Regions from separate parts of the Homo sapiens genome. Here region 2 is linked to region 1. Evidence: fine-mapped expression QTL. A gene starts in region 1. The other region holds a variant in brackets. All regions are shown on one strand. Distances are between the middles of the regions.

Region 1 (4,386 bases):
ATCCCCGCTTCCCCAGGCCAGGCCAGGATGATGGCACCCACGTAGAGATGACAAATCAGAACTCAGAGAGGGGAAGTCACCGTGCCATGAAGAAGCCCCATTTAAGACCCAGTCTGGGCAACAGGGAAATGACCTTTTCTCCCTCCCTCTGGCCTCCTCCTCAAGGAGGTCTTCCCAGATCTCCTCTGCCCCAGTGGGAAAAGTTGCTTCCTCCCATCTGTAGGTCTGTGTCCATTTGCACAGCTGGGTCAGGGTCCTGCAGGATGTGGCTCCTGCCTCTCCACCCCACCCCCAACATTCCAGACCAACACCTGTCCCCCAGGGTTAGGCCCATGGCTGGGTCACTGCTGTCCCCAGCACTGCATAGCACACTGGAAGGTCGTTTGTAGAGTGAATGAATGAAAAGACCAACTACTCGATGGAGAACCCATTGACCCCATTTAATCCATTTCCTCCCTAGTACCGGCTGAAGCAAAGCAGAGACTCCCCTCCCCTGCCCTCTCCATAGCCCCGGCCAACCTGGGGCTCTCTCCCGCAGGTTCTCGTCCCTGCTCTGCTGCTGACTGGCCGTGTGACCTCAAGCAAGTCAGTCCCCGTCTCTAGTTCACCTCTGGGAGCCTCAGTTTCCTTATCTGCAACATGGAGACAGCCATCCCTGTAACCTCAGTATGTTAGGACCCGAAAGGACAAAGCGCCCTGCTGGACACACAGGCAGGGGGGTTGCATCTCGGTGGGTGCCCTCCCCCCCTCATCCCACCCTCATGTCTGCTGAGAGGCCTGAGCCAGGTGCTGCCCTTCGCTGGGTCTCCCTGTGCCAACCAGGTGCCCCCAAGCTGTGCTCACTGAGCTGTGATTTTGGGAGCCCCCAAAGCCCATGGGAGAGGCAGGGGTCAGAGTGAGCCCTGGATAGGGATTCAGGGAACAGGATTTGGTCCTGCTCCTGCCTTAGAGAGGCTGTTTTCCTCCCTTGGCCTCTTTTCTCCCTTCTGCCACTGGGGGGGCTGTTGAAATGGATCAGTGGTTCTCTGGGTTCCCTGGGGCCCGAGGCTTCCATCTGGGGGTGGGGAGGAAGGGGGATGCCCAGTGGGCGGGGCCAGGCTGCTCCACATTAGGTGCGTTTGAAGCAAGGGTGCTCCTGGACAAGGCTGAGGTCATCTGGACCTGGGGAGCAGACAGCTCCCACGAGCCCTTAGGTTCTGGAATTCCAGCAGCCGTGTTCACCAGAACTGTTGCAGCTCTGGAGCATGCTGACATCCAGGGTGCAGAAACTTGGCCCCTCTACCGGGCCTTCAATTTGCCTCCCAAAACACGACCCTGATGTTCTTTTCCTCACCATCTTTGCAGCCTCCTTTCTCCTCTTTCTCCCCAGACACATTGTCTTAGTAGCTGGGGAGGGTTTCAACCAGAGCCTCTGTTGCTCACTCCTGGCCCTCCCCTGGCTCTAGGCAGCGTCCTCAGCCTCCCCAAAGACCACCCCAACCCCCGGGGGCCAAAAAGGGGCCTCAAGGCCCTTGTATCACCCAGACAAGCATCGCCATCACCAACATCCCATCATCATCTTAATCGCAAGTCACTTTTCTGAGTCCACCTCTGAGCCTTTGGACTGGCTGTTCCTTCTGGCTGGAATGTTTGTTCCTTAGAAAGCCCCTTAGCTGACATCTTCCTCAGGTCCCTCATCAGACAGCATCTCCTCTTGGGGCCTTTTCCACCATGCATTCCTGTCTTCCTTACCCTGCTTTACTGTTCTTCATCCTACCTGCCATCAACTGACATATGGAATCACATTAGAGTCACTGCCGGTCTCCTCATCTAGAGCACAAGCCTATGAAGGGGGAAACAGCGTCTGCTTTGCTACTGCTGTGTGTCCAGCCCCTAGAACGCAACTGGACACACAGGCTGAGCCCACAAATGTTTGCTTCTTGCAGCTGCATTTCCCACCTGCGCTGTATTCCTTTATCTAGGACCCTGTGAGGCAGGGGCTGCTGTCCCATTCTAAAAGAGAGCACCCTGAGGCCCAGAGAGGTTGACGGCAGTTGCTTACCTGGGTGGCACAGGTCCATTCCGACGCCTCTGGGGAAAAGATGACCCGTGCTCCTGTCGCTTGCCGACCCAGCTGCTGTTCGGGCTGGCCCGGCAAGGATGCGTCACCTTGACTGTAACAGGCTCCTTCCTGCTTGCCCCGCCCAGCCCTGTGTGGGGAGGAAGTCAGTCCTGGCCCACGGGGGTCTCGTGTGCAGGCTTTTGACAAAACAGCACTTCCTAAAAACTGGCAGAGTTTTGAGCAGCAGGGACTTTTGCCAGGGAGGGACAGAGGTGGAAACAAACAAACAAACAAACAAACAAACAGATGAAGTGAGGGGAGGGCCAGATAAAAAAGAGAAAGACAGTGAGACAGAAAGAAACACACAGACACATATGCACATACACACGTACACATGCACAGACACCGAGGGCGATGTTCACTGAGGACGAACATTTTCCAGGGGACCATGGGCATTCACGTGGCAGCCTCCTCACATATATGCCATAGGAGCGCCCAACTTGGACAGTCCTAGCAGGGCCCCCTGTGTTCCACCCCACAAGCTCTCTTCCAACTCCCACTTGAGAAGAGACAAATGAATTCACTGCTAGGAAGGGCTTTGCTTCCCTTCAAAGAAATATCTGGCTTTTTCTTGTCTAGTGAACAATCGGGTAATATGTTCCACTTTCCTTCTCCCCCAGGCTGCTGGGAAACTCATCGTCAAATCCAAAGCTCATCGACAGCTATTCTATGATGTCATGTGAACTTTGGGGCCTGACTCAGCTGTTTGACTCTCAGCTAGGGCTAGTCAGCCTCGCTTTGCTTATCTCTGAAAGGGGAATAACACTAACTCGGGGATATGGAAACCATGGAGTGAGAGGATGTGTCGGAGATGCTTGGGACATAGTAGGTGCTCAATAAACACTTTCTCCTTTGATTTTAATTATCTTCTTTGGTTAAAATGTATCATGTTATTCCTTGTGCCTTTTCTGGCAGGTTGGTTCAAATCCTTTCTGCAAAAAGCTTTGCTGTAAAGAAACAGGTATAAATTAAATGTGAATTCCCTATAACTTCAGGACACATGCAGAGTTATTCATCTGTTTCCCCATTACTCTCCAGGCCCCATGAGGGCAAGGTTACCTTTTGTGTTCTGGTGTGTGGTAAAATGCTGGGGACATAGAGGGTGTGCAAGTGTGGAATGAATGAACAAATGAATGAATGAATGAATGAATGAAGGGAACATGGAAGAGATCACGGCCGATGTGAAAGCTAGCTACAAGTTCACCTCCTTTTCACTATGCCGCCGCTTCTGCTGTCAAGGGGCGAAGTCCATTTCTCCTTCCTTGGAAGCTGAGCTGGCCTTGGGCATCTCTTTGACCAATAGCACGTGGCAGAAATGATGTGCCGTGATGTTCGAGGCTGAGCTTTAAAAGGCCTTGCAGCTCCTGCTCTTGCTCTCAGCCCCCTGCCTGGCTACCATGAGAACAAGCCTGGGCTAGCCTGTTGGAAGACGGAGGACCACAAGGAGATAGGCTGGGCTGTCTTGGCTGTCCCCTGGTTGCTGCCTCATCAGTGAGGCCAGGGGACACCAGAAGAAGAACCATCAAGCGGAGTCCCACCCAAACTGCTGACCCATAGCACTGTGGGAAATAATACATTTTTGTGGTTTAAGCCACCAACTTCTGGGATGCTTTGTTATGCAGCCAAAGCTTGCTGATACAGAAGAAATCCAATGCTGTCATTTCCTCGGAGAGAAAACTGAGGCTTATTTCTGGGAAACACTTGACCAAGTTGGAACTTGAGTGAGTGCCAATTCAGGCCCAGAAGCCAGGCCTACTAAGTCCCCGTCTAGTGTGCTCAGGATTTTTGAACCCCGCTGCTTCTCCCCTGCCCTGCCTCCACCTGGGTTCTTGTATAACTCATGGTTCTTTTCTGGAAAACTTGTTACAATTATTTCCATGGTAAACTAGATTTTTCTCAACTGCTTTGGGCCTGAGGCACCACAAACCATGCCCTTGGCCATTTTAAAACTAGAAATGTGGGCTGGGCATAGTGGCTCATGCCTGTAATCCCAGCACTTTGGGAGGCCGAGGCGGGTGGATCACAAGGTCAGGAGATCAAGACCATCCTGGCCAACGTGGTGAAACCCCGTCTATACTAAAAATACAAAAATTAGCTGGGCATGGTGGCGGGTGCCTATAATGCCAGCTACTTGGGAGGCTGAAGCGGGAGAATCACTTGAACCAGAGAGTCGGAGGTTGCAGTGAGCTGAGATCGCGCCACTGCACTCCAGCCTGGCAACAGAGTGAGACTCCGTCTCCAAAAACAAAACAAAAGAAAAAACAAAACAAACAAAATAACCCCTA
Region 2 (4,386 bases), 60 kb after region 1:
CTGACTGGCCAGGCATGGACCATATGCCATGCTGGAACAGAACTGCGGCAACCCCAGCGAAAGCGTGTGTACTGGGGGGGAGGGTGAGTTCCAAAGTGGGCTGAGAGCCTGGCGGGAATTTGGGAATTTGGGCGAGAAACCCTCAACCTCCACTACTGGAGGTCATGGGAAAGTGTTCATTTCAGCAGTGAAATGAAACAATGCTGGACCCCGAAGGTGATAAGCAAAGGGGAGTTTCTTTAAAAGAGAGGCGGGGTTGTTGTGAGGATTTAAGAAGTTCCGACATGGGCACAACAGTGCCTGCACAGTCAGTCCCACCTCAGGACTTGCTAAGTTCTGTGGAGGTGCCAGACCTCCCCCTCCTGCGGACAATTACTCTCCTCTATCTCAACTTCTCACTCATTCATCAAACACACATTTATTGAGCACCTCTTCTGTGCCTGGCACTGTTCTAGGTGCCAGGGATCCAGCAGTGCTCAGAAGTCCCTGCCCTCAGGAGGCTGACACTCTAGAGAGGCTAAGAGATCTAAGAGGCTGCCCCTGACAACCCAGAAGACCCCAATTTCCAGCCCATGAAATGCTTGAGTTTCCACATTGTGCTTTCCCAGAGCTCCCAGCCAACCCCACTATCCCCATTAGTCCCCATGTTCTGAGGCAGGACCCCCTCCAGCTCACTCACCTCCTGGGAGCCCCCCTTAAAAGGGATTAGGTGCAGAGGGGAAACCCCTTTGCTTTTCTTAGTTTCAGCTCAAAGTCATGATGTTTTCAAAGTTACTTCTCTTCTGAAACAGAAAGGAAATACTAAACCCCACCCATCCATGGCACCATACAGATGCAGGCGGCCAGGACCCCACTCCCTAGTATGTTCGATGTCTAAGATCCCTGAGGCACCCCCTGAGGTTGGCCAGAGTCTGAGGGAGCCTCTTTCTGATCCCTCCTCTTCACAGAGCCTTGGGATAAACTCCAGAGCCTCCGCAACAAACCATGGCCCTGAAGGTCTGGCCATCCTCTGCCTCCCACTCTTATTGCACTCGTGCCTCTACCATCAGACTGGACTGTCATTTCTTCCACTCCACATTCATGCTTCTTTCATTCCAGGCCTTTGAACATACTGGACCCCTTTCCTTTGCTCCTGGAACTTCCCTGCAGGGCAAAGGTGGGCCCGGATCTCCTTCCATGTGTGTTCAGCCCGTTAGGTCGACCCCAGTAGAGACAATCTTTGCTTCTATATGATAATAATGTCAGTAAATAACTTCCTTTACTCATTGTCTTGGCTCCCATGCACATATTATCTCATTTAATGTTCTAATAGCCTTCCAAGATAGGTACTCTTAGCCACGGTTTGCAGAAGAGGAGATGAGGATGCGGGAGGGCACAGGTTTGGCTCAAATTGACAAGGCAGATGCTGTCCTTTCCCACCCTCTCCCTCTGTTCCCATCCTCCTTGCTAACAGAATCCTAGTTTTGTGCATAGCAGCACCGTACCTAACACCAACAAAATACTCGTTTTTCCAGCTGGTTTTGTCACTGGGGTTTTCAGGCCACATAGTTCTGGCCTAGAAGCCGATGTGAATGAAAGTCAGCGGGAGAGATGGCTTCTGTGAAAGTTGTTTTCTTCCTTAAAAAAATGACAGGCCCAGGCCGGGCGCGGTGGCTCACGCCTGTAATCCCAGCACTTTGGGAGGCTGAGGTGGGCGGATCACGAGGTCAGGAGATCGAGATCATCCTGGCTAACACGGTGAAACCCCGTCTCTACTAAAAAATACAAAAAAATAGCCGGGTGTGGTGGTGGGCGCCTGTAGTCCCAGCTATGCGGGAGGCTGAGGCAGGAGAATTGTGTGAACCCGGGAGGCGGAGCTTGCAGTGAGCCGAGATTGCGCCACTGCACTCCAGCCTGGGTGACAGAGCAAGACTCAAAAAAAAAAAAAAAAAAAAAATGACAGGTGGGATGTCTGGAGCTGCAGCAGCCGTCTTGTGAGCTTGAAGCCACAAACATGAAGATACAAGGCCCCGTGCTGAGAGGGGATGAGCAGAAAGATAAAAGGAGCGTGAGTTCCTGGCAGCAGCAGTGGGCAGCTGAGCCAATGCTAACAGCTGCCTTGTTATGGGAACTGAAGAAAATGAAACCACCCAATTGTTAATGTCACCGTTGGTCACACCTTTTGTTACGGTAAGCTGACAGCATTTGTCACTGAAGCGGTAGGACTCCTAGCGCAGTGCTCTTCCCACTGTATAACTGTTCCCAGCAGCCACTCCAAGTGGGGTGAGCCACTTGTTTCTGCTCTGCAAATTGGCTGAGGATGGAGGCCCCTCATATAGGAAAGAGAAAGCTTATGGGAAGTCA[A/G]TGAGAACCTGTTTTGAAACAGGAAGACCTGCCGGTTGTGGGCAGGAGCTGACACCATGGTTTGCTCTTTCATGTGACAACAACCCCTCCCAAGTGCCCACCTAGTGCCAGGCCTGGGCTGGCAGCAGGTTCCATGCCTCACTTCGCCCCTTCTTGCAATGAAATCATGGCCTGGTGGTTGAGGAAAGTGCCTGCCAGACAAGGCCACTTCATCTGGTGCTTTCTATTCTAGAGACTGGCTGTTCCTTGTCCCTTCTTCAAAGCGGAGGCCTGGGGTCCCCCAAACTCCTCCGATCCTTTCACCCTGGCATTCACTGGCCACCAAGCTTGGACAATTCAGCCTCTGTCTATTAAATCCACCCCTTGTCCCCACGGCTGCTCCCTAACCTAACCCCTGCCATGTCTCCCCTGGACAGTAGCCACAGCCTCCTCACTGGCCTCCTGTCTTCCCTCTCTCTGCCTCTACTCCATTTGCCACCAGGTGGCCTGGGGATTTTCCTCATTTACAAACAACTGTGCAGTCAAAAATGCTGATAGAACCACAGACTTATTCAATCATTGAATCCTTCAGCAAATAGTTATTGAGACCGTGTGTCAAGCCCAAGGCTTGGGGGTGGGTCAAGCATGAGCCCGCTCTCAGGAGCTCACAGGCCAGTGGGGAGGCTGTCCAGCCAGCAGAGAGCCCCAGGAAATGGCCCTTCTGCTTGGATGTCTCCTGAGCATTTCAAACTCACACGCCCCGCCCAGCCTTCATCACTCAGTAAATGCATCCAGGCTCTCAAATCAAAAACCTGGGAGTCCTCCTTGACACCTTCTCCCTCACCTTCCACTTCCAACCCATCACCGACAATCTCCTCAGTGACCCCCTTCTCTGCATTGTCATGGTTTCTAATGTCCAAACCAGCACTGTATCCTCCCTGTGGTAGCCTCCTGTCATAGTCAGCAATTGGTACAATAATGCTGTGTAACAAACCAAACTGCCTTGAAATCCAGAGGCAAGAAGCAGCAGGCCTGTATTCTCACACTCACTAGTTGTAGGTGGACAGTGGGTCTGCTGACTTAGGAGGGTTTGGCTGGTGACTTGGCTTCGGGCTGGGGATGGGTGGTCTCGGTCCTGGCTGTGGGTGTGTGTGGGTCGGCTCCACCTGTCTCTCATCCTCCTTAGACCAGCATTCCCTGGGGCATGTCCTTCTCATTGTGGATCACAGGAGCATGAGAAGCCAAGCCAAACCATGAGGTGTTTAAGGCCTCTGCTCATGCTTCACATGGCCGAGCCCAACACCACCAATGGGGCAGGGACAGGAACTCTTCCCAGACTTGGAGGAAAGGAAATATTTGCTGAGCACCAACTGAGCACCAATCCTAATGCTCACACCTCCTGACTGGCCTTCTTGTTTTCACTCTTGCCCTTGGCCATGGTTTATCTCCACGGAGTGGCCAGAGTGATCGCGTTAAACTACCAATCAGATCAGACCACTCCCTTGTATAACACCGTCCAGTGGTATCTCTGGACATTTGGCACGAAACCTCCTCCCTCACCTACAAGGCCTATAGGATGTTGTCAGTTTCTACCTCCAGATCTCACTTGGCACTATCTTCCCTTTCCTTGCAAAGCTCCAGCCACAAGGGCTGTGATCTGGTTTGGCTGTGTCCCAACACAAATCTCCTCTTGAATTGTAGTTCCCATAATCCCAAGGGAGGAACCCAGTGGGAGGTAATTGAATCCCATAATCCAGGTGGGAGGAACCCAGTGGGAGGTAATTGAACCATGGGGGAGGGGGACGATTACCTCCATGCTGTTCTCGTGATAGTACGTGAGTTCTCACAAGATCTGATGGTTTTATAAGGGTTTTCCCCTTTTGCTTGGCACTTCTTCCTGCCATCATGTGAAGAAGGATGCGTTTGCTTCCCCTTCTGCCATAATTGTAAGTTTCCTGAGGATTCCCCAGCCATGCTAAACTGTGAGGCAATTAAACCTCTTTCCTTTATAAATTACCCAGCCTTGGGTATGTCTTTACTTTTATTTTTTATTTTGTTTTATTT

The links. PIP is the estimated chance that this variant, and not a neighbour inherited with it, causes the effect. A credible set is the group of variants that fine-mapping cannot tell apart.
Region 2: its variant is the best candidate, but not a certain one, in a credible set for the expression of CYTH4 in whole blood (TOPMed, PIP 0.55).

The regions. Positions count from the first base shown.
Region 1 is chr22:37,280,244-37,284,629 of GRCh38, reverse strand. It overlaps CYTH4 (cytohesin 4), which reads right to left and starts at 2,122. Exons shown (of 13, transcript NM_013385.5): 1 at 2,042-2,122. The coding sequence starts at 2,060. RefSeq lists enhancers at 1-105, 718-767, 2,314-2,363.
Region 2 is chr22:37,220,555-37,224,940 of GRCh38, reverse strand. No RefSeq gene overlaps it. Among named protein-coding and RNA genes, the nearest start is that of SSTR3, 10 kb to the right of the region's middle. RefSeq lists a silencer at 2,019-2,158. The variant A/G (reference allele first, on the strand shown) is at 2,344.